Linked DNA regions of Homo sapiens: all the other regions are reported to be linked to region 3. Evidence: microRNA targets listed by miRTarBase, many of them from high-throughput screens and not tested one by one. Region 3 holds a microRNA gene; each other region holds the end of a gene's coding sequence. Distances are between the middles of the regions.

The links. Region 3 holds the annotated microRNA hsa-miR-484 (UCAGGCUCAGUCCCCUCCCGAU, at 3,598-3,619, opposite strand). A microRNA usually pairs through its seed, bases 2 to 8, with sites in the 3' UTR of a target mRNA and lowers its output. Matches are read on the target gene's strand: a 7mer-m8 pairs with bases 2 to 8, a 7mer-A1 pairs with bases 2 to 7 and ends in A, and an 8mer does both.
Region 1: miRTarBase lists RNF19B as a target of hsa-miR-484. The part of its 3' UTR that is shown has no 7-base or 8-base seed match.
Region 2: the mRNA of CLEC16A is a reported target of hsa-miR-484. Seed matches in the 3' UTR shown: 7mer-m8 at 2,503-2,509.
Region 4: the mRNA of MCM5 is a reported target of hsa-miR-484. The part of its 3' UTR that is shown has no 7-base or 8-base seed match.
Region 5: miRTarBase lists HADHA as a target of hsa-miR-484. The part of its 3' UTR that is shown has no 7-base or 8-base seed match.

Annotation. Positions count from the first base shown.
Region 1 is chr1:32,931,913-32,938,308 of GRCh38, forward strand. RNF19B (ring finger protein 19B) reads right to left here. Exons shown (of 9, transcript NM_001300826.2): 9 at 4,537-5,347. The coding sequence ends at 4,894. Among named protein-coding and RNA genes, the nearest start is that of RNF19B, 30 kb to the right of the region's middle. RefSeq lists a silencer at 2,176-2,470 and an enhancer at 2,176-2,470.
Region 2 is chr16:11,176,221-11,182,616 of GRCh38, reverse strand. It overlaps CLEC16A (C-type lectin domain containing 16A), which reads right to left. Exons shown (of 24, transcript NM_015226.3): 24 at 431-4,282. The coding sequence ends at 3,927. Among named protein-coding and RNA genes, the nearest start is that of SOCS1, 77 kb to the left of the region's middle. RefSeq lists enhancers at 1-107, 108-993, 1,750-1,909.
Region 3 is chr16:15,640,524-15,646,919 of GRCh38, reverse strand. It overlaps MIR484 (microRNA 484), which reads right to left and starts at 3,626; the gene lies at 3,548-3,626. It overlaps MARF1 (meiosis regulator and mRNA stability factor 1), which reads left to right and starts at 3,766. Exons shown (of 27, transcript NM_014647.4): 1 at 3,766-3,902. It also overlaps a transcript of NDE1 not described here.
Region 4 is chr22:35,423,930-35,426,929 of GRCh38, reverse strand. MCM5 (minichromosome maintenance complex component 5) reads right to left here. Exons shown (of 17, transcript NM_006739.4): 17 at 1,499-2,776. The coding sequence ends at 2,675. Among named protein-coding and RNA genes, the nearest start is that of MCM5, 25 kb to the right of the region's middle. RefSeq lists enhancers at 1-74, 75-582, 583-1,088.
Region 5 is chr2:26,186,965-26,193,360 of GRCh38, reverse strand. HADHA (hydroxyacyl-CoA dehydrogenase trifunctional multienzyme complex subunit alpha) reads left to right here. Exons shown (of 20, transcript NM_000182.5): 18 at 937-1,051; 19 at 1,733-1,878; 20 at 1,966-2,726. The coding sequence ends at 2,111. It overlaps GAREM2 (GRB2 associated regulator of MAPK1 subtype 2), which reads right to left. Exons shown (of 6, transcript NM_001168241.2): 6 at 3,698-6,130. The coding sequence ends at 5,104. Among named protein-coding and RNA genes, the nearest start is that of GAREM2, 17 kb to the right of the region's middle.

The sequences.
Region 1 (6,396 bases), not on the chromosome of region 3:
TCCAATGGTGACTAGATCTACATTTCATTCAAATGCAGCTTAGTCATAACTAATCTAAGAAGCCCATCTTTGAGGGCCTGTTACTAGTAACCACTTTTGGAACCAAATACTATATTAGCCAGGATTCAGTAACTGCAGGAAACAATACTCCTCTACCAATTTTAAGTGGAAAAGGATTCAACACAGGTAAATTAGGTGCTTACAAAAGCACTGGAAAGCCTGGGGAACATGGCCATAGGCTGGGCCTCCAGGCGATTCCCAGACCTGGAATTAGCCTTCCATGTGAGCTGCTACCTCTGCCACCATAGGGGAGATGAGCAATTAGGAGGCCACTACAGGTTGACTACAAGAAAACATATCGCAAACTGCTATCTATGGATCCAGACACCCTTCAACACCCACAAAGCTACTGATGGCTATTAGAATGCAGTTAAAGAGAAACCTAAGGTCTCTACATCTTGCAGGAGCAATAGCCAAAGTAGCTAAAGATAACCCCTGAATCACTCCTCCTTCCACATCTTGTTTGTGCATCTAACTGGCAAAACTTGACCTTAGGTTACATTCAGAACCTTGGTTTCAAGGAAATCTAAGACATGAAGTTTTTAGTTTTCCAGCCTCTGCAGCATACGAAGGTACATTAGGTGAGCATAAATGAGTATTCATTTACCATATCCACAAGCTTCTTCACATTGGCCTGTCCAAGTAGTACTAGTGATCAGACATGCCCCTCCCAGTTTCAACCTTTTTGAAAGCTGGCCGCAAGCACTGCATCTGTCTGGCGCTGAAGATTACCTCCTCCTGGCCCAAAGAAATCTAAAATTTCCTTGTCTTCAGAGTTGTTTGGCTAATCTACACAATCTTGCTCCAGCTGTCTTTGACCTAATCCACTACTCTCCCCACCTTGGTCCACTTTGTTCCAGCCATATAGGCCTCTATACTATGCTTTTTTGGAAACAGACTAAGGATGCTCTACCAAAGGGCCTTTGTAGTTTATTCCTCATGTCTGGTATGTGCTTCCCCTAGATATTCACATAGTTCTCTTCCTTGCTCCATTAAAGTCTCTAATAAAATGGAACCTTATCAAGGAGGACCAACCTGGTCATGTCAAGTAGCACTATCTACCACTCTGTCTTCCCTGTTTTTCTTCACAGATTACTTATCCTCACTCCAGGTTATATATCTGATTGCCTTCCCCCGTTAAGAGTCTAAGTTCCATGGGGACAGGAACTTTGTATTTTAGTCATTGCTACATCTTATACCTGAAATGCGGTAGGTATTTCAGAATGAATGAAGGCTGTATGAAGAGGAAATTAAACTTTCTCCATTTTCTAAGCTATTATTATTATTTTTTTTTTTTTGTGAGACGGAGTCTCGCTCTGTTGCCCAGGCTGGAGTGCAGTGGCGCAATCTCAGCTCACTGCAAGCTTTGCCTCCCGGGTTCACGCCATTCTCCTGCCTCAGCCTCTCGAGTTGCTGGGACTACAGGCGCCCACCACTACGCCCGGCTAATTTTGTGTATTTTTAGTAGAGACGGGGTTTCACCCGTGTTAGCCAGGATGGTCTCGATCTCCCGACCTTGTGAGCCGCCCGCCTCAGCCTCCCAAAGTGCTGGGATTACAGGCATGAGCCACCACGCCCGGCCAAGCTATTGTAACTTTTCTAATGCATTATTTGTGTTCGCCTCTAGGTGGTGATGATGGGCCTTTTCATCTACTAAAGTGTCGCTAAGGATTAGAATAAATTTAAATTTTTCATAGCCTCTGGCCTAGAGGTCTAGGCTTCCTTTCTTATATGATATCTAAAATCTCCTTTAACTCATTTCTTCTTCTTCCTGCAGGAGGAAAAAACATGGGCCTTTACCAAAAACATTTTCAGTATACCATCTCAGTCTTCACAACCCCTTAACTAGGATCATCATCTCCATTTTGGCTAAGTGAAAACAGACTCAGAGTAAACTGCCCAAATCTCACAGCTGTAGTAAGTGGAACCCAGATAAGAAATATAGGTTTAGCCATAAACTACTGCCCCTCCAACAGACTTCTTTGATTTTATCAAAGAAGTGAATTGTTCTCTCGAGGCTTCAAGAGAATTCCAAGTTTTGAGTTGATAATTTGCGTTTCAGAGATCTCCAGGCTGTCTGCCTCTTTTTCCAACAAGTTCTCTTTTTCACACAAGTACACGCCCCCTTCAGGGAACATTCTTCCAGAAATCCAAAGTCCACTAACAGCATTTCCTGTCCTAGGTGCAGGGAAATGTGTGAAGTCTGGCTGCAGTGCCCAAGAGATAAGAATCTTCTAAGCTGGCTGTTGTCCAGACTTGCCATCCTCATTGTAGTAAAACACTGGCCAGGAAGACAAAAGTGCATCTGTGAAAGGAAACAGAAAGTCATCTGGTCTTCAGGGAAAGGAGGATTTCAATTTTTCCTCTGGGCCCAGGACTAAGGTGAGAGAGGTCTGACACTGGAAGCTCTTTAAATGCAATCTGAGGGCCGGGCGAGGTGGCTCATGCCTGTAATCCCAGCACTTTAGGAGGCTGAGGTGGGGGGAATCACTTGAGTCAGGAGTTCTAGACCAGCCTGGCCAAAATGGCAAAACCCCATCTCTACTAAAAATACAAAAATTAGCCGGGTGTGGTGGCATGCACCTGTAATCCCAGCTACTTGGGAGTCTGAGACTTGAGAATCACTTGAACCCGGGAGGCTGAGGTTGCAGTGTGCCAAAATCATGCCACTGCACTCCAGTCTGGGGGACAGAGCCAGACTCCGTCTCTAAATACATAAATAAGATCTGAAAGTTGGGGAAGTTAGGGGCATGAAACTGACTCATACAAAGTAAGTCACTCTAAGATTTGGAATCTGACATCAGGTTTCACGAGTCTTCTAATTTTCTTGCTATACTGTATATAAGCTTTCACTTCTAAGGACATTATTTTATTTTGTCAGACGGAGTCTCACTCTGTCACCCAGGCTGGAGTGCAAAGGCGCGATCTCGGCTCACTGCAACATCCGCCTCCCGAGTTCAAGTGATTCTCCTGCCTCAGCCTCCCGAGTAGCTGGACTACAGGTGTGCGCCACCACGCCCAGCTAATTTTTGTATTTTTAGTAGAGACGGGGTTTCACCATGTTGGCCAGGATGGTCTTGATCTCCTGACCTCGTGATTCACCCGCCTTGGCCTCCCAAAGTGCTGGGATTGCAGGTGTGAACCACTGCGCCCAGCCCATTATTTTATTTTTTATTTTATTTTTGAGATGGAGTCTCCCTCTGCCTCCCAGGCTGCAGTGCAGTGGGTGATGTCAGCTCACTGCAACCAGCACCTCCCAGGTTCAAGCGATTCTCCTGCCTCAGCCTCCCGAGTAGCTGGAATTACAGACACATGCCACCAGGCCTGGCTAACTTCTGTATTTTTAGTAGAAACGGGGGTTTCACCATGTTGGCCAGGCTGGTCTCGAACTCCTGACCTCAGGTGATCCACCTGCCTCAGCCTCCCAAAGTGCTGGGATTACAGGCGTGAGCCACTGTGCCCGGCCAGGACATTATTTTACACAGAGGCAAAACTCCAAGTAGTACAAACTTAGCTCAATTTTGACAAATTTGTAAGATCAGATAAATATGTTCAGAGATTTTGAGGGCATACCCCCTCCTTTCATTACAAATCTCAGATTTTAGTCCCTTTTATTTAAACCAGATTAGCAAAACTGAGAAAGTTTATCAGAACACGGAGTGGTATACCTGAGAACACAGCAAACACCTATGTCATTGCTTTGTGATTATGCGCATCAGTGTATTTCTTCCTCCAATAACAGAATATTCTGTTCTCCAACTTGTAACCATGCAACATTCACTGAGAACTCTTTTTTTTTTGAGACAGGGTCTCTGCCACCCAGTCTGGAGTTGCAGTGATGTCGGCTCCCTGCAACCTCTGCCTCCCCAGGCTCAAGCGCTTCTCCTGCCACAGCCCCCTGAGTAGCTGGGATTACAGGCGTGCGCAACTACCGCCTGGCTAATTTTTGTACTTTTAATAGAGGCGTGGTTTCACCATGTTGGCCAGGTGGGTCTCAAACAGCTGGCCTCAAATGATCCACCTGCCTCGGCCTCCCAAAGTGCTGGGATTACAGGCGTGAGCCACCATGCCTGACCACTGAGAATTCTCTTAAGAGCTACCTGGGACTGCCACTCCTTCTCTCCTCTGAAGCATATGACTACTAGTGACTATAATGCAGAAAAGGGCAAAGTTTTAAGAGTAAATTGCACAGTTGCTTCTAGAGGGCAAACAAAGTTAGTTTTAATCTACTGCTTCCCTATTCAGCTGACTCAGCTAATAATTCTTCAGCCTGACTACAAAGTCCAAAACAAGCCTAGCTTTGCTTCCTGTCATGCTAGGAGTCATAGGTTTATAGATGACTACTGCGGTTGGATTTGAATACAATCCTTCTTCCCTTGGATTAGAAAAATTCAGGTCTAGAGACTGTCAAAGATGGTGCTTTGTTTCAAACACTTGGCTCTGTGGGACTATCCAAGCCAAGGAAAATGAGGTAAGTTGAATTATGACAGAAATCTTTATTAAAATGTGTCTTTCAGTAATATGTTTAGCATTCAATATACACACATACATATGTACACTCTTTGACACACCTCATGGATTGCTGCCATCAGTTTAACCAATAAATTAAAACTAAAAAGAGGGAGGGGAGGGGAGGGGAACTAACGGCAAACTTTTCATGTTTTATCTGGTAAGAAATTGTGAATTTCTCAGAATTTCCCTGGGCAAAAACCTGTGACCAGAGAATCTGTGAAATAAAATACATAAATCTCTACCCCTTGGAAAAAAAAAAAAAAAAATTCCAAAAGATGCAGTTACAAGTGTGCTTCTCAGAACAGGAGCATTCATTCCACTTCATACTCTGGCTTCTCCACCTTCTGGCTTCAAGACAGTTTGTCCCTCGGCTAGGGCAGAGAGGTTCATATGGGCACTTGGGCTCGGTGCACCTTGGGCTCTGGGGGTCGAGGGGCAGGCTGCAGTATGGGAGCGGGGGGAGCCACACTCATCTGAGGTGATGTCTGGCACATCGTCTGACTGTGCATCAGAACTCTCTAGGTCACTGCGGATGCTTTCAGGCTGGGCCAGGCTGATGTCCCAAGGTTTGCTGGCCAGGCAGTCTTTCTGTTCACAGCTTTGGTGTCTGCAGGGGGGATCCTCTTCACTGCCTCCGCCACCACTACCTTCTTCTTCATTCTCTGCCATCTGAGCATGAACATGGAGCGAGTCCTCCGTGCTGCTTCCACTCACCAGCTGATAGTGGCTTGGTTTGGCTTCAATGTCCACTTGGATTTCCATATTGTTGCATTCTCTGTGGAGACAAAATCCACTTTGCTGAGTCATGCATGGATCATGCTAAACCTGTTGGTAAAAGCAGTTCATGGGTTCAGGATTAGGAATTTCAAAAAGATAGGTGAACAGTTAACTAGAGCTCACTTTTAACAAAAATAACATTTTAATCTAACACTCAAATGAGATGGAGGCTGGACGTGGTGGCTCATGCCTATAACCCCAGCGCTTTGGGAGGTCGAGGTGTGAGGACTGCCTGAGTCCAGGAGTTTGAGACCAGCCAGGGCAACAAAGTCAGACCCTGTTTCTAAAATAAAAAAAATTAGCTGGGCATGGAGGCACGTGCCTGTAGTCCCAGCTACTCGGGAGGCTGAGATGGGAAGATCACTTGAACCCAGGAGTTCAAGGCTGCAGTGAGTTATGATTGTGTCACTGCACTCCAGCCTGGTTGACAGAGCAAGACCCTGTCTCTAAAAAAACAAAAATAAAAATAAATGAGATGGAGAAGAGTAATTAGATCCTTTTTGCTGATTTAACTATACATGCACACGTGTGCTCAGATGCACACACACGTGTATCTCAGCCAATCTCTTTAAACATACAGAAAGAGCTTCCAAAATTCAACTAAGGGTCAGAGCCCCATGCTAGCTTACTCAAAATAGAAAAGTAAAAGCTTTTTACTACCATGCCACAAGTAGAAGAAGCCAGAATACCTACTAGTGGGAGTACCACAATCACACCATCCCAGATACACCAGTTTCTCAAAATGAAAGAGAAAGAAGCTATGGGAATCCTATCAAGCAAAGGGCAAGCAGAAACCCTAGACTTGAAGACATCAATGAACATCAATCTAGCTCTTTAAGTTCCATGTAATTATACACTGTTGCAATAGCCAAGAAAGACAAAAAAAAAAAAAAAAAAAAGAAAAAATACATAAAAGGAAGAAAGAAAAGAAATCTCTAAAAATCAAGCGCTAACAAGAAGAATCAAGAGATGCCAAACACTCAAGTACCAAGAACTTGCTCAAATGAATTCACAGGTTACACTATATATCCCAGGAGATGGTACATA
Region 2 (6,396 bases), 4.5 Mb from region 3:
TCCTGCTTCCCTCGGCCCAGCCTGGCAACAATGACGCTGCTCGCTACGCTTGTCCTGCGAGGTAGGGCTTGGCTGTCCAAATCCACAGATGCAGAGCCTGAGGCTTGGATGGGCAGCCACCTGCCCAACAGGGAAAAGATGCAGAATGTGGACCACGCTCCCTGTACCCGGCAGGGGTAGGGCGGGGACATTTCCTGATGGTGCCAACTGCCCCTTAGCAGTTATTCCCGGGTTGTATGAGCCCCGACAACCTCTTAGGAACCTGGGGATGGGAGGGAACCTGGTGCGGGGAGGAGGGAGAGGGAGGGGCTCCAGCCACCACACCCCTGCCAAGCAGCTGCGCCGGGATGAGGGGTCATTGGCTGGGAACCTTCCCCTGTGCCAGGCCACGGCCTCCTGCCACAGCCCCCAGGAGCAGCACGCTACATTCTTGGTAACTTTTTTTCTCTTTTATTGCCAAGTTTAAATTTACAAGGAAGTTCCAGTTTTCATTTCCACCCTCGTGTTCAGTACCCACGAAGCATGAGTCATGCTGGCGAAAGCAGGTACTTCCCTAGAGCGGTCCCGAGGCTCAGAGGCATCGAGGTTTTCTAACCCTCGGTTCTCACTGGGACAAAAATTATTTACATATTTTTAGCTCAAGGAAACATAAGGAACTCGTACAGTGTAGGCCCAATGTCAAGATGACTACATTAAATGCTTCAGATTTATTTATTGCATCTAGACAAGAAGATCAAAATCAGTTCACCCCACGCCTTTTTAAAAAACGGTGCATCTCAGAGACCTTAGAGGAATCTAGCGCGTCTGGCAGGGCTGCGCTTCTTCACCTGCCCCTTAGGTTGCTTGTGAACGCAAGTGTCTGGGTTGTGGGAGGCTGCCAAGGCTCCGGGAGAGGGACTGGGCTGGGACAGCGGCAGAGGAGGGGCTGCTCACGGAGGCCCCTCCTCCCAATCCCACGCGATGGTGAAGGCTGGCCCTTCCTGCCTGGGGGAGCGCCTCAGCTGGCCCCATCTGACCTGCTGGGACAGGTACCTTGCACGTCCAGAAAGGGACGAGCACACCTCCACAACAATATTCAAAGCCAAGGTTTGGGAGTTCCTGCGGCCAGCCCTGCTCCCTGACTTGGCAAACCCAGCCGGAGGTGCACAGGGGAAGGGTGGACCAGGGCCTGGGCCATAACTCTAAGTGCTCTCTGCAGGGACTTGGGGGGCGGGCCGGATGGGTCTGTGGGGGCTGACCTCAGACCTCTGAGGCTATGACCTGAGTGTCAGAAGCCACAGCCCCCACTGTGGGCCTTCCCACACTCCTGGCTCTTCCTCTGGATGCCAGGGGCCCAGCGTGTCCTGTCTGGACTGGCCTGTCTGGGAGCGCCCCAGCTATGAGGTTTGACGGGAGCTCCTGAAGACATAGCTGTGCCCACTGCCGCTGAGACCTGGGTGAGGTGGGGTCCTTTGAAGCCAAAATGGCTGGTGGCCTCCAATGGGCTGGCTCCCAGACCTCCTTACATAAGCAAAGCTTCTGGGAGCCCTGGTTATAGGAAATCCTCACCCCACACACCTGGAGGTGTCCCCCAGACGCAAGTTGCCAGCCCCAGCTGAAAGAGGCCCCTGAGAGTGACCCTGCAAGCCCACATGGGGACTGCCCTTTTCTTGGCCAGGGATGCAGGGTAGAAGCCCTGCCCTGAGCAGTGTCTTTTATCCTCCGCTGGTCCTCCCAGTCACCTTTAATCCTCTGCTGGTCCTCCCGGGCATGCTGTCCAGCCCTGACCAAGACCTCTCTCCTTCAGTGCTCAGTGGTTACAAGACCAGTTGGAGCCCAGAGACTTCTGACAGCAGGCTGGTGGCCCACCCGTGTGGCATGGAGTGAGCTGCAGGCTGTTCCTCCTGGTCACGCCTTGGGGTGGGGCAGCCACTTGCCTTCTCTAGTTTCTGCTGCCCCACAGACAGAGTCATTTCAAAACCAGAAGTGCATGTCTCAGGGGCTAGCCATCTCCAGCCAGGGCCAGCTTGATCCTCTCTACCCCTCTTGCTCTTAAAAAATTAAGCAACACACAGGCTGCCTGCTGGGTGTGGCGTGTCCCGTCTCCTGATGCTGTGGTCCTTCTCTCCATGATGGTCTTCCCCCCGCTCCACCCTGCCTTCCTTCTCTTCCAGGGATTCTGCAGATGGCCACGGTGGTCGTGGTTTGTCCTTCCTTTGGGTTTCTGCCCATGTGGCCCCCTTTCTGAGCTGTGCGTTTTCTCTATGGAAGCAAAGGTCCTTGTACCTGCAGCCATGAAGGCTGGGTGGGCACAGCTACCCAGAGGGCTTCTAAGGACTGAGGCCTGTCCCCATGGGCGCCACTCCCCCTCCTTGGCAGGACTGTGTTTCCTTCATGAGGTTGAAAACTGCCCTCGGCAGGCCTTGCCGGGACAGCTGGCTGGGCCGAGGAGACAGAGACCATGTTCTTCTAAAATGCAGGTGGCAAAAGATCTCAGCGCGGCTCCCGAGACTACCCTATGGCCAGGCTCCGGCGGATACCTAATGCCCCTGGTGGGCACATCTGCTGGCAGGTCTGGAGGAAAGTTGTGGAAGGTCTCACCAGTGACCAGAGAGGTGAGGGGCCGCTGGCCCTGGTGGACTTGGGGAGGGTGGATCACGGCCTGGGCTGTGAGTGCTGTGTCTGGCTCCCGAGCTGGCCGAGTAGAAAGGAACATCTTGGGGGCTGTGTCTGATGCATCTGGGTCCTTGCTTGTACACACCCAGTCCGAATGGGGAAGGGAACCATGGGGTTTCCATATTCAGATCAGCAGCAGTAGCAGAGGGAGAGTGACAGACTCAGAGCTCTGGGGACACCATGCCCTTGCAGCTGGAGGGGAACTGGCTCTGGGCCATCTCTCGGCACATGTGGGCACACACAGTCGAGGGCAGGTGACGTAGAGGGTGTCTTCCTTTGATTTCCATCATGGCCACAGGGTCGGGAGTCTTCACGGTCCCAACTGGTTCCTTCTTAGAGATGGTAACACTGAAGAAGGTGCTGGAAGCTGTCTCTGTTTGGTTTTGGTGAAGAGAAATGAGGAAGCGTCCTGAGTGGGGAGCTGGCTACATTCCTCCTTTTCCTGGAGAAATCTTTCCATGATGGGAGGCCTCTCGGCTGCTATAGCAGAAAACCATTCAGCCCTCTCAGCTCTGTGTGTACCTGAGAATACATGTATCTCCCTTGTTTTTGTTTAAAAAATAATCCAAACTTTCCAGGAAGGTACTTCATTATTCCACAGGCTTGCAGAGTTAGTGAGTAACAAAGAATCACTTAAATAAATGGAAAAAGCCACACTAAGAACTCTGAAACAAAATATCAGGAAAGGTCCAGTGAAAATGATCATGAAATCTTAACTGTTATTATTACACTTTTCACATGACATCAAACCTTAGTGTTGATGTTTTTGGACTTCTTTTAAATAGAAGTTTTAAAAATAAATGTTCACCTGCTGCCAAAAGCGGAAATAAATATCCAAAGGAGATGTTTATCTAAGTCTGCTTTTCTACAAATTTCTACGTACAGTGACCTGGTCCAATTCTTCTGTGCACACTGGGGCTGGTGACAGAGGAGCCATATGACAGAGGAAGAAAGAGGTGCCGGTGGGTCCTGCCACCCGGGGCTCAGAGACACGGAGCCCAGGCAGCTCCCTGAGTGGCCGGTGCAGTCATCTGCATTCGCCGCGGTGTCTCCGCTGGTCCCAGCCTGCACGTGAAGAGATGCAAAGTGAAAAAGGAATTCAAGGACAACGTGGGGCTTCTTCCCATTCAAGGGAGCGCAGGGATAGGTGGTTGAGATGGCTGCTGGGGGCCGCACAGAATGGTGGGTGCTCCCAGTGTGTCTTGCCAGTCAGCGGCACTGGGGTCCCTACCAGCGGGGCCACACACACAAAGGGAGGCCCCGGCACTGACTCAGTCCTCAGCGGTGCCCACAGGCTCAGCACATGCAGCCTCTTCGCCCACGGGCTCTGTGCAGGCGGCAGCCGGCGTGGACAGCGGGGGCATGCCGGTGAGGCTGCGGAGGCTGTGGGGGTCAACTGGGGGGACAAGGGTCAGCGATTCGACGCTCAGCGTGTCAGCCGTGTCCTCGCAGAGCAGGGAAATGGTGGGCTGCCGGGCAGGGACGAGGCTGGGGGACAGGCTGGCTGTCTCCACGGCTGCGCTCCTGGCCACGTTCTTGCTGGGCTTAGAGTCTGCTTCCGTTTCGTTGACGATTACCAACTGGTCAGGAAGGTGAGGCTTAGGCAGTTCTGGACTCATGGGGGCATCTGGATTGGGGGAGAAAAACCGGAAACACACTGAGCCCTTGAGACACCCCGTCGCACTGCGCCCTGTGCTCCCATCCTGAACCGCGGCCCTGGTGAGCTAGGTGGGAGGTGGCTGGCTGGCGTGAGGGCTCAGCGTGGCTCCACTCACTCCTTTTGGGGACACAGAACCTGCAAAATCCAGTCTGACTTAGGCCTGGGGAAAATACAGCAGGGCCTAGGGTTACCCTGACTTGTGATATGAGGGGAAAATTCAGGGCCTGTGCAAAATCAGCATGTGGCTTATGAAAGCACAGTTCCTGGGTGCAGAGACCCAGCTGACAGGCTTTATGTGTGGGCAAATCTCAGGCCTGCCTGATGATAAATACTTGTTTGGGAAGTAAATGGGCTTGGGTGTGCTCGTAATATCAGGCCATTTCCAGAGTATACATTTGATGACATTTACCCAAGAGGGAACCCACTGCAATATTAAAAAAAAAAAAAAAGGAAATTCTGTAGAACTTTTCAGCTTGCAAAACCAAAACAAAACCTTGGCCTGTCTCCTCCTCCTCCTCCTCAAAGTGCTGAGCCAGCACCCACCAAGGGGCTGCTGTGGTTCCTCAGGCCATTATTGTCCCGAGCTTCCCGGCAGGGGCCACTGAGAAACCACGCCAGGACAAGGCAGGTGAGGTTCCACCCAACGCAGTTATTCTTGGAGCAGCAATTTCTTTCCTTGGTGCTTTTTTTTTTTTTTTTCTTTTGGCGGAGTCTCACTCTGTTGCCCAGGCTGGAGTGCAGTGGCATGATCTTGGCTCTCTGCAACTTCCACCTCCCGGGGTCAAGTGATTCTCGTGCCTCAGCCTCCCGAGTAGCTGTGATTACAGGCATCTGCCACCACATCCGGCTAATTTTTGTATTTTTGTAGAGATGAGGTTTCACCATGTTGGCCAGGCTGGTTTCAAACTCCTGACCTCAAGTGATCCGCCCGCCTCGGCCTCCCAAAGTGCTGGGATTACAGGCATGAGCCACCGTGCCCGGCCCTTTTCAAAATCCTACAGACACATGCTGGCCCATTTGCCTTCCAGTGATGAGCCTGCCTGAACAGAAACACCAGATGCAGCTGGAATTCATTGTGGAAAACATCTTCCAGCACTTCAGATGCCGGGTGTTTAAAAACATTGAGAAGAAGACAGTGGGCATCCTGCTTGGAGGCAAATTCTCATTTGCACAGAGCTGGGGGTCCCCAAGCCATGGCGGGAGGTGCTGACGATGCTATATCGAGCTAAGAGTCTGACAGCAGCCTGGGACCCGGGAAGCATGGTAGAATTTTTTTTTGTTCAACGTGATTCCAGTTTAGTTTTTTATTTTCTCTTTTAAGTCAGGCCAAAATAAAACAGAAGAGCAAATGGAACATAAAGCAAAATAATGGAAAAACAAAGAACGAAATAAAAGCAGGCAGCATATAGAAAGGGAAGAGGGAGAGGAAGAGAGCTCCCATCACGGAGCGAAAGCACGAGAGACAGACTGGATTTCAAAGCACACACCGGCATTTCTCCCCACAAGACTCTGGGCAAGATGAACTCTAAAAGGTCACAATTCATTTCATTTCTTTTGTTTTTTTGAGACAGGGTCTCACTCTGTCACCCAGGCTGGAGTGCAGTGGCATGATCATAGCTCACTGCAGCCTCAACCTTCTGGACTCAAGTGATCCTCCTGCTTCGGCCTCCTGAGTAGCTGGGACTACAGGCCCGTGTCACCACACCTGGCTAATTTTTAAAGTTTTTTGTAGAGACGGGGTCTCATTACGTTGCCCAGGCTGGTATGGAACTCCTGGGCTCAAGCAATCCTTCTGCTTTGGCCTCTTAAAGTGCTGGGATGTGCACAGGTGTGAACCACCGTGCCCAGCCCAATTAATTTCTTCCTAATGTCTTTTTTAAAAGAGAGAGAGAGAGAGAGAGATCTAGAGGAAACCACTGCATGAGGCTTTGGTCCTCGCTCTGGGAGGGTGGCAATGGGCATCGGTGAACACTAGTGGAAAAAGTGATTTGAGGTGTGATCTGAGCCCAGAAATGCTGAGTAAACACTACATGCGAATTCTGGTTTCTTTGAATTTCAACTGATTTGCTCCATTCAGTAAG
Region 3 (6,396 bases):
CACCACCATGCCCACCTAATTTTTCTATTTTAGTAGAGGCAGGGTTTCACCATGTTGGCCAGGCTGGTTTTGAACTCCTGACCTCAAGTGCTCCACCCGCCTCAGCCTCCAAAAGTGCTGGGATTACAGGCATGAGCCACCACACCAAGCCTCCCCTTAGGAATTTTATTACTTATTTACTTATTCATTAAGATGGAATCTCACTCTGTCGCCCAGGCTAGAGTGCAGTGGTGCGATCTCGGCTCATTGTAACCTCCACCTTCCAGTTCAAGCGATTCTCCTGCCTCAGCCTACCAAGTAGCTGGTATTAACCCCCCTTGGATTTTTTTTTTCTTTTTTTTGACGGAGTCTCGTTCTGTTGCCCAGGCTGGAGTGCAGTGGCACGATCTCGGCTCACCGCAACCTCTTCCTCCTGGGTTCAAGCGATTCTCCTGCCTCAGATTCCTGAGTAGCTGGGATTTCAGGTGTGCACCACCACGTCCAGCTAATTTTGTAGTTTTAGTAGACACAGGGTTTCACCATGTTGGTTTGGCCAGGCTGGTCTCGAACTCCTGACCTCAAGTGATCCACCTGCCTCGGCCTCCCAAAGTGCTGGGATTACAGGCGTGAGCCACTGCGCCTGGCCCCCCTCGGAATTTTATTTGGCCCTAACCACTCTGTGACGTTTCTGGACAGGAACTAATCACCTCAGCTTACAGAGAAACCGAAGCACAAACTGATGAGGTACTGGTGTTGCCTAAATGGCTTTGATCAAGGTATTTAAACTAGTTGGTTCTCAATTTCCCAAATTTTCCATAAAGAAAAAAGAGAGGGCATTGAAATAATAATCCTTAAAGTCCTATTTGGGAACAACATTTAGGGAAATAGGTTTGTCATTGGGTAAAACCTTAAAAACATTTAAAATGTTTTTCTTGTTCTTTTTAAATTCAATTTGTTTTCCTTGTAGCTTTGGACTATGGCTGAGCAGATAACTCAATTTAACTTCCTTAGGTCCTTCCATGATCATTTATTAATTCAAACCACTGAACCTAATACAGGTAGAAGATTGGTTTCTGGGGAGAAACTCCTTTAATAACAGCTTGGTTAGTTGAAAAGCTGAATTGCATGTAAAGTAGCTACTTAAATAGCACACAAAAAAGTCTTTCGGTTTTCATACATGTGAAGACTATAATTTGGACAAGGGAAAAACTGAAAGTTACTTGTACTCTCTAAAGTTTTCCCAGCAAAGAAACAGGAATACAATTAATAGAGGATACATACTTAAAATATATCTTAAGAGAAAATTTATGTATTTTGATTCATAATTGTCTCCTAAGGCCTGGTATACTTTGCTTAGGCTCCTAGTCTTTAGAAAGCAGCAATAAAATTACATTTCTTTTAAAAGTATTTGTAATTCAGACTTTTATTAGCCTTCCACTTAATACGACTGTTTTGTTTTTAAAAATTTTTTTAATAGAGACAAGTGTCACACCATGTTGCTCAGGCTGGTTTTAAACACCAAGCCTCAAGGGGTCCTCCTGTCTCAGCCTCCCAAAGTGCTGGGATTACGACATGAGTCACCATGCCCCGCCCATTTTCAATCACTACATTTACTTGTTGTGACTAGTTACAGCTTTGGACTTGAAAGAATGCCAAGCTAAGTCAAACAAAATGTGTCTGCTTGGTAAAAAGGAATCTAAAAGAAAAATATACATATAAAGAAAATGTGGTCAAGCTCGTTGGCTCAGCCCTGTAATCCTAAAGAGGCCGAGGCGGGAGGATCACTTGAGGCTAGGAGTTCGAGACCAGCCTGGCCAACATGGCAATATCCCGTCTCTACTAAAAACACAAAAATTAGCCAGGCATGGTGGTGGGCGCCTGTAATCCTAGCTACTCAGGAGGCTGAGGCATGAGAATCGGTTGAACCCGGGAGGTGGAGGCTGCAGTGAGCCAAGATCCTGCCACTGCACTCCAGCCTGGGCAATGAAGCAAGACTTTGTCTCAAAAAAAAAAAAAAAAAAAGTAAAAAGGAAATGTGTCTGCATTCTTTGATGTTTTCTGGCTAAAAACTATTTTTTAAAAAAAGCAATTAGAAACCTACAATTACCTTGTTTCTTAAGATTTTTAGTTAATATGGCTTGTGTTGAAACATACTCAACTGAAATAAAATGGGGAAAAAACACCTCTGAAGAGTAGCGTATTTGTTTGGTACTTTGAAAAAAGCCAAAACGCTAGAAACGGGTTTTTCATCTATTCTAATCTCCACTTGGAAAATACTACCTATACACAGACATAATGAAGATTTTTTTCTTTTTCTTTCTTTTCTAAATAGTGATAGGGTTTCACCGTTTCCCAGTCTAGTCTCAAATTTGTAGGCTCAAGAGATCCTCCCTCCGTAGCCTCTCAAAGTATTGGGAATACAGGCCTGAGCCACTGCGCCCAGCCCACAGTCAAGATTTAGTCAGCAGTAATAAATACCTACGCAGGGAGAGGATGTGTGCTTGTCATCTGCCTTCTGGAAAATTAAATACAGGCACAAAGGATTCTTCAGCTACATGTCTGATCCTGCCCTCCACAATACCCGTCTACAGGGATGTTTACAGGGATGTGTTAATCCCCACGTAATGGGGATTGCCTATTGAAATAACCTCCCAGTAAGGATTTTTTTGGGCAAAATATTCTCGTTTGGCAATTTCGACTTACTGATTCTTTTGCAAAGTCAACTTGTTTCTGGGCAAACTTTAAAAATAAACTCCTAAGGTAGCATTTAGCTAGCAGCTAGCACATCCTAAATCGTGTCTAGATTTAACTTACACAATATGTGCTTTGCTTTTTTCCTAATTTGCAACAGAAAATAGTAATCAGCTGGTAGTTTCAGAAATCACCCTTTTGCTGAGTCTTAAATTTTTTTTTATTCCAGGGAAACGTGAAGATTGTGGGGCGCTATTTTTTTTTTTAAAGCAAACCACACAGCATATCTGGCCACCTAAAACACAAAGTGTTTGAAACTAACCGTAAGATTTCCTTTCTGCTCGCCCAACCTGTCACTGGAAACGCAGTATTCATTTGTAACCAGCTTTGGAGCAGGGCTTTTAAAAATAACGTTTTCTTGCTAAAGTCCCCAAAAATCTCTTGATTCTTGGTGGCAATGTCCAGTTGAGTCTTTGCACACACTGTATTTTTGCCAACTGGGTCGCAACTTTGCGAGAACTCCGGGGGACCTCGTAGGAAGCCAGGTTGGCAGTTATTTTTTTCTCCACTTGCCACTAGGTTGCACTAGATTTAGGATGCTGGGGAATATGCGCCATTTAATTTTTAAAAATAAAGTAGGACCATCACGTGACGAGACCCGAGAGAGGAAAAAAAAAAAGCCGAAGGGACAGGGTTTTTCATTGAAATCCCGTTCAAATCGCCTTCCCTCCAAAGCCTGAAAGAGCTGAATTCTATTAAATCCTGGTTGGCAGGTTTTTTCCTCGGGTCCACGTCACGAGCTCATTCTCCGCTTCAAGGTTCCTTTCGACTCCACAACGTGAAGCCAGGGGGAAGGCCTCCTTAAACTGGGGGTTTTCGCCAAAAAAGCCAGGGTCACCCCCCGGGAAAGTCCCTATTTAGGGGTTTATCGGGAGGGGACTGAGCCTGACGAGGCTGCAGGGCCGCGAGGCCCCGCCCCCCCCGGGGTTCCCAGCATGCCCCGCGCGGACAGGACGCGGCGGCGGAGGCGGGGCGAGGAAGGGGCGGGGCGAAGAGGAGAGAAGGGCGTCGGTTTTGCGACAGGGGCGGTGCGGTGCGGAAGCGGAAGTGAAGGGTGCGCTTGGCGGCGGCGGCGGGAGCTGCGGAGTCGGGAATCAAAACAAAGGGCCTGGGGGGGGCGGGGGGAAGGCGGCGGGGCCGGAATGTGAGCGGAGGTGGAGCCGGCGGCAGAGGTGAGTTTGCAGACAGTCCTGCGACCAGACCCCGGCAGGCTCTGCTCCGAGGCCAGCGGGGCGGGACGGAGGACAGTGTCCCCTCTTTCCCCGCCTATTGCTGGTGGGATGGTGGTGGAGAGGGGAGGTTAGCTAACTGGGACGCGCCAGTTGGGCCCCCCACGAAAGAGTTGGCTTGTCTCCCTTTCGGGTCCATTCACTACTGTCACTGTTGGCGCCGCTGTTCCCCTTCGAGGGCATTTGGCTCCCCGCCCGCCCCTGTCTGACCCCTGGTGGGGCCCTCCAGGAGTGAAGTGCACAGCTGGAAGGTTAAGAGAGAAGGAAAGGGGCGGGTGTTTTTGCAACACACTCCCCCCTCCCCGGCCGTTTTGCATTCTCCTCGGCCTTTTAGCAACACATAGGGTGTAGTCTCAGGGTTGACAATGTCTAGGGCTTCAGCCACTCTCACTAGTAGTTGTAACGCGACCTCGTGATACACCTTTTAGAGTTTCTCAAGCACCTTTCCGGTATTACCAAGAGCTGTCCAATTGCATTTGTGTCTTTTGGACTTCTCTGAGCGGTAAATATTCTTCTCTTTTGCATATCGGTGTATTGAAACCTAAACTGTTTTCCTATTTATTAAGCTTTATTCGTTCAACAGTTATTTATTAAAATATGCCAGGCATTGTACTAAGGACAGGAGTTGGAATAGTGGATAAGAAAACATAGTCTCTGCTGTCATGGAGTTTATAGCCTAATGGGGGAGAAAGATAATAAAATAAGCTAAAAAGGCCGTTTTGGACAGAAGAGCTATGGGGGAGAAAACGGTAATGGGATGGGGTGGTGTGGGGTCAAAGACTAGATTGGGTGCTAAGGAAACAACATTTGCTAAATGTTCCCCGTGGATTACCTCATGTAATCCAAACAACGGCCTTGTAAGGTGGTTTCTATTATTATCACACCCATTTTAGAGATGGGATCTGAGGTTCAGAGAGGTTGTGAGTTGTCCAAAGCTGCACCGCAGTCAAATTGGAGACCAAAATGCAGACAGTCGACAGAGCCTATGCTCTCCTCATTGAATTGGTCAAAAGACTTGAAGAGAGTGACAGAAAGGAGACTGTCGCTCAAGTCAAACAGAACCTGCTTTTGGCTACCTAAGTTGCTTCGTGGATGGTATTTGGGAAGTTTTCAGGGTGCAGGCACCTGAAAGTTTTTACTTTTAATCGCTTGTATTGAGCAGTATTGAAGGCACCTTGATGTAGTGGAAAGGGGTGAACAAGCCTAATCTTGTGTCAGGCTCGCTACAAAACTTCATTAAGTTTCTTTTTCTCTCTCTGCAAAAATGTAGCTAATTTCTCCCCTGTCTATTTCACAGGATTATTGCAAAAATTATATAAGAGGATCCCACCGTCTGGGTTTTTTTCATCATTATATTCCTTGTGCCAAGCACAGGCCTGCTGCATAGTAGATACTAAGTAAATATTTGCTGAATGAAGACATAAGTAATGTTAAGTGAAAATACTTTATAAACTAGATTATACTGTGAATGTTAGCTCACTTTCAGGATTTGGCTTTGAAGAAGTTTGAGAGAATGTTTAAGTTATGAACACTGTGAATATCACAGATTCTTACGATTTTGAGAGGAGTTTTTTGGGGGACATAAAACCTGTATCTAATAGGAAAGACAAGAATCGTAATTTACTATCAGTGGTAGCAGTTAAATCCATCTCCAAATTAACCACTCCCAATAGTGTGTAGTAGGTAATGTTTACTTTGTATTTACAGAGTAGGGAGCATTTTGGTTGGCACAAGAGATACAGTGGTGAAAATAGACAGTGGGGTTCATTTATCTAATTTTTTTTTTCTCTGTAATGCAGTGGCGGGGAGAAATTAGCCACATTTTGCATAGGAGGAAACAGAAACTTGAAAACAAAAATTTTTTTAGAGATGGAATCTCACTCTGTTGCCCACGCTGAAGGGCCAGTGGCACAATATAGTTCACTGTAGCCTCAAATTCTTGGGCTCAAGAGATCCTCCTACCTCAGTCTCTCTAGTAGCTGGGACTAGGCGCATGCTGCCACACTATGCTAATTTTTTGAACTTTATTTTATTTTAGAGCTGTGATCTTGCTATATTGCCCAGGCTGACAAAAGAGCCACGTAGTAAATATAGGCTTTGTGGGCCATACAGTCTCTTTGCAGAGACTCTCTTTGCAACTCTGCAATTGGAATGCAAAAGCAGTCATAGGCAGTATTTAAGTGAATGAGTGTGTCTGTGTCCCAATTAAACTTTATTTATGGACACTGACATTTTAATTTCATGTAATTTTGTTTGTTGGTTTTTGAGACAGGGTCTCACTCCGTCGCCCAGGCTGCAGTGCAGTGGTGCAATCACAGCTCACTGCAGCCTTGACTACGCAGTCTTAGGTGATTCTTCCACCATAGCCTCCTGAGTAGATGGGGCTACAGGCATGCACCACCACGCTCAGCTAATTTTTTGTAGCCATGGGGTTTTG
Region 4 (3,000 bases), not on the chromosome of region 3:
CCTTCCCAGACCTGGAACTGGAGAAGGGGTGGAGCGGCTCTCATAGTGGTGAGCGAAGTTGAGAGACCCATGCAGCCAGGAGTAGAGTGGGGCAGGGAACACAGCAGCAGAGGCTCGGCCTCTGCTCACACAAAAGCATGAAAAGGTGAAATCCGAGATGGCAGAGGCTGTGAGGCAGGGAAAACCACAGGCACCCAGCCCTTCCTGGGAGCACCTCCCCGGGGCCAGGCCCAGCTGCTCTGATGTCTACCCCCTCAGTTAATCCTCACAGCCACCCCTGGGTGAAAGGGCTACTGTACTGCTGTGCCCTTTCTACAGATGAAAGGAGGCTGAGGGGTGAAGTGATTTGCTCAGCAGAGAGAAATGTCCGCTGGGTCGCGGCCTGTAGCTGGTGAGGGTAGGGACAGATCTGAGAAGACAAGCCTAAGGGAGCCAGGTCACAGGTGAGTGAAGAGCTCAGCCACCCTGAGTGGCAGCACCAGCTCGGGAATCCAGCTCCCCCCCTTGCCCCACCTCCCTGCCTCTCTAGGTGTCACTGAGGCCTGACTGGAGATTCCACTAAGCCGAGCCCCAACTATTACTCAGCCTGAATGCTCCCCTCTCCTGGCCTCCCTTCAGGCTCTCTCCTCAGCCTTTGCTTTCCCCAACAAGCAGGTGTTTCCCTGGCTCAGGGGCCTCTCTTCATGCTGCTGCCCCGATCTGGAAGGAGACTGGCATGCTCTGAGCACAGCTGCTCCTCCTATGAGCCCTACCCCAACTACCACGGAAAAGCCAGTCGGACCCCCTTTGGCCTCTCAGTCCTGTGCCTGCCAGTCAGGCCACCTACCCCTGGGAACCTACCCCAGGGTCAGTCTCCCCCACCTGACTGGCACCTGCCTCCCCCAGGCCAGGACTGTCTCTGCCCAGCATCCCACTCAGGCCGAGGTCAGGGACTGCCAAGAGAGAATCTGGCAGAAAAGGTGACATGGGTGGAGTTCGGAGCCACCAGGTTTGAAGCCTGCCCTGCACTCCCTCACTGTGACACTTGACTCTCTGAGCCTCAGTTTCTCCACCTGTAAAACAGAGGTGACCACAGCAGCACCACCCACCACAGGGGTGGAGAAAAGGCCACCAGCAAAGTTGCCACTGCAGGGTGAACCTCATGAGAGTTCCACACTCCATGAACAAGCAGGACGGGAGGACCTTGGGCCTGAGATGCACGCGAGTCCCCACCTGAGCAAGATGAAAGGCTAGCAGGAACCGGAGATGCAGCCTTGGATGCAAAACCCACAGCGCGCCCAGTAAGGTTGCCACCCCACCAAGAAAACAAAAGCTGTTCCAGACACTCTCAAAATTATCAGAAAAGAAATGAGCTTTGAACGGGAGTGAGTCAGAGGAAAGCTGATTTAGCTCCTCTCATCTCTCCATTTCCCCGAACAGTATGGAATCAGAAAGGGCTTTGAGCTGCAGGAATCTTCTGCACAAAAATACATTTGTGATTCAACAATGACCAGGCGGATGCACCAAGCTTTCTTGTATTTTTAGAAAAATCAAATAATCTTACTTCAAGTTCGTGTCATTTTTACATGGCAATTACTTTTAAATACCTTATCTAATGTTCCATAGATTTCCAAATTCACGTTTTGCTTGACACTTTGTATTTCTAAATGTATTTTAAATATCAAATATTTTATTTCACTGATTTCTATTTAATTTTATGAATCCTAGCTTTTTTAAAAACACAAAACATACCAACTCAGAGTGACTTTCTGAAATTAGGCAAAGTGACCGAGGCACTTGGCAACACTCCTTCCTCCAGCATCACTGTCACTAGTGCCTTCTGTCATTCAATCCTCACAACTCAGGGTGAGGAATCCCCCCATCTCCAGTTTACTGATAAACTCAGGCACAGAAAAGTGAAATGTCTCGCCCAAGGCCACACAGTTACACGTGGCCCACCAGGAAAGAACTGGCTGGAGTCCTAGTTCCTGCCTGGTGGCCACTACATTCCCCTCACTAACAGCTGCTCACTGACCCTAAGCACAACCCTGTGAAGCAGGTTCTAGTATCAGCCTGCTTACAGATAAGGAAACTAAGGCATGGAGAGGGTCCATGAATCCAGGCAGTCTGACCGCCGCACCACGGCTCGCAGCCCCCCAATAAGTTACTGGGGAACAGGTGAGGCGGATCAAAATCACACACTTTGAGAAGCGCTTCCCCACTCCCTGGTCTCACTGGATTCCCAGCATCAAGGGAGTGGCTTTATGAGCCCCGCTAAACAGATGAAGAAACCGGAGCACTCAAGTCACGTGACTTACCCAGAAGTCTGAGTGGCAGATCCAAGTCAGAAACCCTGGCCAGTCTGCCTCCAGACCCTGTTCCCTCACACTTACCCTGCCATGAGGGCACGATGGAGGTGACAGGTCACCGAGTGCACAAACCCACAGATACCTGAACACACCGTGGCTTTATTATTAACGGATGCCAAAAGCACACTTCCCAGAACCGCGCTAGAGGCGGGCGCCCAGAGGCAGCAGGACACTACAGCTCCTTCCTCTGGGGCAGAAAGGAGGGTGCCTGGGAAGTTCGAGGGCTGCAGTGGGGAGGCAGAGGTCCCAGCAACATTGTCAATGGCAGGCAGCGGCAGGAGGGGCGAGGCGTGGGCGAGTCCATGAGTCCAGTGAGGCGGCGCGACTCACTTGAGGCGGTAGAGAACCTTGCGCTGCATGCGATGCTGGATCTCGCCGCGCCGCAGCATGAGCTGCAGCACCTTGTGGATGGCGTGCTCCGGGTATTTCTGTGGGAGCACATGGCTGGCTAACGGCACGTGCTGCCCGAGGGGACTCCGACAGAGCCCAGACATCCCCAGGCTCACGGGGAACTTTGTACTCAGGCTCCTTTGACCTAAAGGGCCCACACTTCCTGAGTGCCCACTGTGTACCAGACACTGAGGCACACGGAGGCTAAGCCACTTGCTCAAGGTCACAGCAATTAAGAGGTAGAGCTGGGACTTAAGTCCCA
Region 5 (6,396 bases), not on the chromosome of region 3:
GCCCAGAAGTGTGAGGCCAGCCTGGGCAACATGGCGAGGCCCCTTCTCAAAAAAAAAAAAAAAAAAAGATGTCATGTGAACCTTCTAAGGGCTAGGACTATAGATTATGGACAAAAGGCAGAGTTCTACCCTTCTGGGGCTCTAGCATCACCTGGTCCAAGTTATGCCAGATGGACAAGCATTTTTATCCCCCAGAGATGAAATCTGCAATAGTGCAGAAGCAAGCTCTGCATCCGGGCTTTACCATGCTGTCTGGCCACCTGTGAGGAGAATGTATAAGCTCACCATACACAGTATACAGTTGAGGCCCACAGAGAAGTGACTTTCTGTCTTGGCAAAACAGCAAAATCAGCATTACAACCTGGGTGTTCTAGGACCCGGTGCTGCATATGGGGATGTTAAAACTCACCCAGGTGGCCTTTCTCATCCATGTACACAGATGCCCAAGCTCCGGGTCACAAGATCTTCTTTCCTTCTCTGCCCACTCTTCTGACAAAGACTAATTTGCTAGGGTTAGCTAGACATACAAATTCAGGAATTCAGAAGAGGCCAGAGCTTTATAATAGACCAACAGAGACAAGAATTCTCAGGTCAGGGTCTTTTTTGTTTGTTTTTTGTTTTTTTTTGAGACAGAGTCTCACACTGTTGCCCAGGCTGGAGTGCAGTGGCATAATCTCGTCTCCACCTCCCGGGTTCAAGCGATCCTCCTGCTTCGCCCAGCTAATTTTTGTATTTTTAGTAGAGATGGGGTTTCACCATGTTGGCCAGGCTGGTCTCAAACTCCTGACCTCAAATGATCCTCCGCCTCGGCCTCCCAAAGTGCTGGGATTACAGGCGTGAGCCACCACGCCTGGCCAGGCCAGGGTTCTGAGAACAAATAGTAACACTCCCTCCCTGAGAACAAATAGTAACACTCCCTTTTCTTGCCTGTTTTAGGTCGTAAATCTGGGAAGGGCTTTTACATCTATCAGGAGGGTGTGAAGAGGAAGGATTTGAATTCTGACATGGATAGTATTTTAGCGAGTCTGAAGCTGCCTCCTAAGTCTGAAGTGTAAGTCCGTTTGAGTGGCTAATGCCTGGAAATTGACTTTCTCTGACAGCCCAAAGCTTCCCAGCCCCTCTTCCATTTTTTTTTTTTTTTAATACTTTAAGTCCTGGGATACATGTGCAGGTTTGTTACATAGGTATACACGTGCCATGGTGCTGTCTTCCATTTTCTTTGTGACCACCATACCTGAACAGGAGGACCACTCCTGATGCTGGCATGGTGCTTTCCAAGTGGAAGGCCCTCGCACGTGCTCCTTGGTCTCTGCCCAGCATCTAGGTGAGAACCAGGCCACGTCTGGTGAAGGCCCTCCCCTGCTCCAGCCTTCTCTGGCAAGTTCCCAGAGAGCCGCTGGAAGGACAGATTCTCCTTGGCCCCTTCACCCTCCCAGATCTTTATTATCATTTGTGAGCAGCTGACTGTTGCTGATGTCAAAGAGATACTGATTATCTTCTCGGCACCAGGCCCTGTTCTAGGTGCTCAGTTTCATGTTAATTAGGGCAAGTTACTCTCCACTTTTTCCATGGGAAAGTTTGGTTCACCCAGGCAGCATCTTCTCTGAGGGCCAGCACCAACCGGCCCACAGAGCTCCCCATGCACCCATCCCGACTTCCATTCTGCATCTGCGGCTCTGGCTTTCCTCCCCTTTTCCTCTTCTTCTACCTAAACATCTCTTTCTGTTGGCAGCTCATCAGACGAAGACATCCAGTTCCGCCTGGTGACAAGATTTGTGAATGAGGCAGTCATGTGCCTGCAAGAGGGGATCTTGGCCACACCTGCAGAGGGAGACATCGGAGCCGTCTTTGGGCTTGGCTTCCCGCCTTGTCTGGGAGGTTGGTCTCGCAGGTTGGGAAGGAAGCTCACTTTAGCCTGGAGCCCGTGTTGCGTCTCCTTCAACGAAGTCCTCTTTCTCTATTCAGGGCCTTTCCGCTTTGTGGATCTGTATGGCGCCCAGAAGATAGTGGACCGGCTCAAGAAATATGAAGCTGCCTATGGAAAACAGTTCACCCCATGCCAGCTGCTAGCTGACCATGCTAACAGCCCTAACAAGAAGTTCTACCAGTGAGCAGGCCTCATGCCTCGCTCAGTCAGTGCACTAACCCCAGCTGCCGGCAGTGCTGGTTCTCCAACAGAGTGGTGTCTAGATTTATCAGAGTAACGAGAAGACAAACTCCGGCACTGGGTTTGCTCCCTGATTAAAGTGCCTTCAGCCAAGACCATCTCTCCCTCCTGGTGAAGTGTGACTTCGAATTAGTTTGCACTTCCTGTTGGAAGGTAGAGCCCACTGCTCATTGTATAAGCCCCGAGGCCTAGAGTGGCAGCCAAGAGCCATCTGAAGCCACCTCTCTGCCTGTTCCTCCCAAGAGGCCAGGGTGGCCAGGGGTGGTGAGGGCAGTTCTGCACCCAGCCAAACACATAACAATAAAAACCAAACTCTGTGTCAGCATCTTTGCCCTTCTGGTTTAAACGCCTCCTTCAAAAAGCAATCTGGAAGAAAGCCCTGTGCTTTGGGGGAGTAAGAATGTGTGTGCAGAATTCTAGGCAGCACCTTAGGGAGGGACTGGGATGAGAGAAAGTGGGACCTGGTGGGCTCAACCACACACACCTGTCTGTGCAGATGCTTTGCCCAGGCTTCTCACCACGGTGTACCGGGATATTAAACCTCTTTCCCCAGCCTGGATTTCCTCATTGTGTGATCTTACCCATTTCTTTTCTGGGTGTGCCTCATTCATAGGTGCTTCTTGGGATGGTTGTGGGAACGTTGGTGCTAAGCAGAGGCGCTGACATCTCCCTTGATGTTCGGAGATCCTGCATAGCAGGGCTGCCCCAGAAATGCCTGTGCGGTAATCAGGCAGCACGGGAGCAGCATGAGGAGTGCTGACCCCCACAGCACCTGCACTCCCCCAAAGCTTCAGCCCCTCCCCACCCCACCCCCTGGGATGGAAAGTTCCTACAGAAGCAGTGCCCAGTCTGGGTAAACAGCACTGGGGCTAACTGGGTCTGGCAGAAGGATCCACGCTGAGTGTGTGCGGAATCGTAATTCCAGTCCCATCACATTCTGCATTCTAAATTGTCAGATATTACCAGTTACTCCTGCCTCTGCTCCAGTTGTACTTCAAATATGTCCCTGGTCCCAGCTCTGTAGCTGGGACTGGCAGGCAAGGAGATCAGGTCTGGCTCTGCTTGGTCACTAGGAAGCCAGACTCTAAAACCAAGTCACCTCTGAGTTGAGGTTTTCAGATGACCAGAGTAGGGAGCTGATCCCTTGCACCAAAGCCATTAACCGGTTTCCAAATTTGGTCTGAGAGAGCCTGAAGCCGGCATTCTGCCAATGCAGGAAGCTAAGCTTGGGCCCTGGCTGGTGGCATTCAGCTTTGAGCCTGGGTCTTTCCCTTCAGTAACACCAGGTAGGTGTGAATTATGTTGAAACTAGTGGAAGCTGGGGTGGGGGTTCTTGAAGGGTAGGGAGGGGCTGGCGAGGGCCCTGCAGAAGGGAATGAAGGCTGCCACCAGCCGCCTCCACAGACATGGGAATGGCCACACACCCACATCATTCCTCCATCAGTCCTCTCCTGCCAGAAGGCATATACACTGTGCCCATGGGTCCCCATGGCCTTGTTTTCAAAAGAAGAAAGCAGCTGGCACCCAGAATGCCACTTGTACTCATCTTCAGCAGTCTAGCATTTATTTCATTAGTCCTTGAGGATTCATTAAATGATCTGCAAGAAAACCAAATGTCCCCACATCACAGGTTCTGTGCTCTACTCTCTGACCACTTCTCTGAGCTGAGGCAGCCTGCTTGGAGTATGGGCACCAGCATGGCTTAGCTACTTTTAAGATAAAAAGTGGAGGAAATAAATAGGTAGACTAGGTAAGGCAGAAGAGAAGGCTGGCACTTTGGGCCCTGACACTAGTGGGCACCCTGTGGTTCTGGGTGAGATGGAGGACACGGATGGGGTGGGGTGTGTGGTTGGACACAATGACCAGAGCTCTGGGTACCAAGCAGATCCCCATGTTTGAGATTCAAGGGCACAAAGGCCTGCTGTGAGGCACGTGAACAAATGCAGGACTGAGCTCCAGGAACGCACTCTCCCAACTGTACCCTCCTGTGCCAGTGACAGAAAACCAGGGAAAAACACCAAGTATTGTCAGAGACAAATGATGGGGGCAAGAGATTGGCGGAATTGGAGGTGGTTGACTACCGCTTGCTTCTAGAATCAAGGAGAAGCTGACCTAAATCAACCTGCTCTTCCACGGAATCAGTATTCTGAGACTGAACGCCACCTGACGGATGGATGACTAGCTGCAGTAAAGTCAGAGCAGAAGCCAGGGTGCTAGAGTCATCTGGGCAGTGTCTGGCTTCCTAACTAGATAAGTGGGTCGGGTCAATTGCAGAGCTGTGCTCTTCCAAAGTTGTCACCCATGAACCAGGACCCACAGGTGGAGCCTCTGAGGTGCCATGGGTTAGGCTTGTACACGACTCACCTGTGTGCGGGGCCAGGCCCCACCCCCCTCAACCACGGTGGAGCAGAGGGGGAAGGGAAAGGCATCTCACAGACACAGACATCTACACCCTCACTCTGGGGCAGCTTTAGGCCAAAAGCCAACAGAGCACAAAGGAGAGTGGGCACTTGGGAAATCGGTGCTTAAATTACCAGCCATCTTCTTGTCTCTAAACAGAGCCTACAGGCTTCAGCAGTGGAAGTCGTTTGTGAAGGTCTATAGCAGGGCATGAGGTGGTGTTAGGTCACCCTGAAGGCCAGCTTTTGACCCCGTTGTGGGAATCACGGCAAATGCCTTACTGGGCCCAGGTACACAGTGGTGCCCCCAGCCCCTTCCCCATGTACTCTGCACACTCAAAGGCAAGATGTCCCGTGCAGGGGTCTGACCCCAGAGGACCACATTTCCACATGCATCTCCCCTGGATCCACCCAGTGGCTGCTGAGCAGCCTCAGTCTCGACATAGATCCTTCTTGCAGGCAGCACCTGCTCCTCCGGAGTGCTGTACCTGGGGCCCCCATACCAGCATTCCAGCTGTGCAGCTCCAGCTGGGCAGTTCAGATCTTGGGCCTCCAGCCTTTGATGAACTGCATGATCTTCTTGACCTGCAGCTTGGTGAGGTGGAAGTCATCTGCCAGGATGTCCTCACTGAGCTGCACAAAGATGCTACCATCGATGCGTTCTCGGGCAAAGAAGCTCACCACATCCTCTGAGAGCCCGATGAAACGCAGACTGCGAGAGACCTCCTCCAGGGAGAGTGCAGACAGGTCAGCAGGGGGCTGCCAGGAGGAGGCATCTCGGACTCCAAAGCCTGTGGCTCCATCCCGGGGACTGGCAGGAGGCCCTTCCAGGCGCCCTTGGGTTAGAAAAAGTGCTCCTCCCGCCTCGGGTCCCTGCAGAGCAGCTGGTGACAGTGGGGTGGGGACCTGGTGCAGCACCAAACCTTCAGGCTCAAAGGCCTTGGAGGGGCCAAGTGGTGAAAGGCGGGGTCCAGGCCCAGGTGTCCCCACTGCTCTGGGCTCCTGAGAACGCAGCAGCTCAGGCTCTGGAGAACTGCCCTGCCCCAGCTCAAAGGGATCGAAGGGCTCCAGGACTGGTTCCTGCCATTCAGAAGAAGAGGAGGAGGAGGGGGCGCAGGAGGAGGGGGGAGCAGCTGAATAGGCCTGGCCTGGCGAGGCTGGGCCTGGGGAATACGCAGGGCCAGAGGTAGCCACAGGACCCGAGGTGGTTCTGGGCCCAGAAGACAAGGCCGCTGAAGGGCCTGAGGGGTAGGCAGGCCCGGAAAAAGGGTTGAGAGCTCCAAACGGAGCAAAGCGCTTCTGGGGATGTGAGGGCTTGAATAGAGGAGGGCAGCTGTGGTAGGTCTTAACAGGGGTGTCAGCCCCCAGAAGGGAGGCGGCTCGACCGCTCAGAGGCTCTGTGAGGGCCCGGGAGGCCTGGCTGGGCTGTGTGGTTGAGGGTAGGGGACCGGGGGCTGGGCGGCTAGAGGACTCGCCCACCTTGCAGTCTCCCCAGGTGCATGGGTAGCAATAGAGGGAGTAGGTGTCCGGCGATGGGGAGCCACTGCCACTGCGGGAACCCGCCCTGTGGACAGAGACAGACACACACACATAGGACAGGTGAGGCTGAGAGGGAATCCGATAGGGTCACACATGCATTGCAACCAAGCACCACTATGACCTCAGCAACACGGGCCTGCACCCCAGCCCCAGCCCAAGACCCTCCGGAATGGCCGTGTTCTTCCTTCCAGCATCCCCCAGCCCAGGTCAGAAAACACAGGGGAAAAATGAAACGAAACTGAAATTAATAAAAATATTTTCTTTCAATTTTTTTTCTTTTGAGATGGTGTT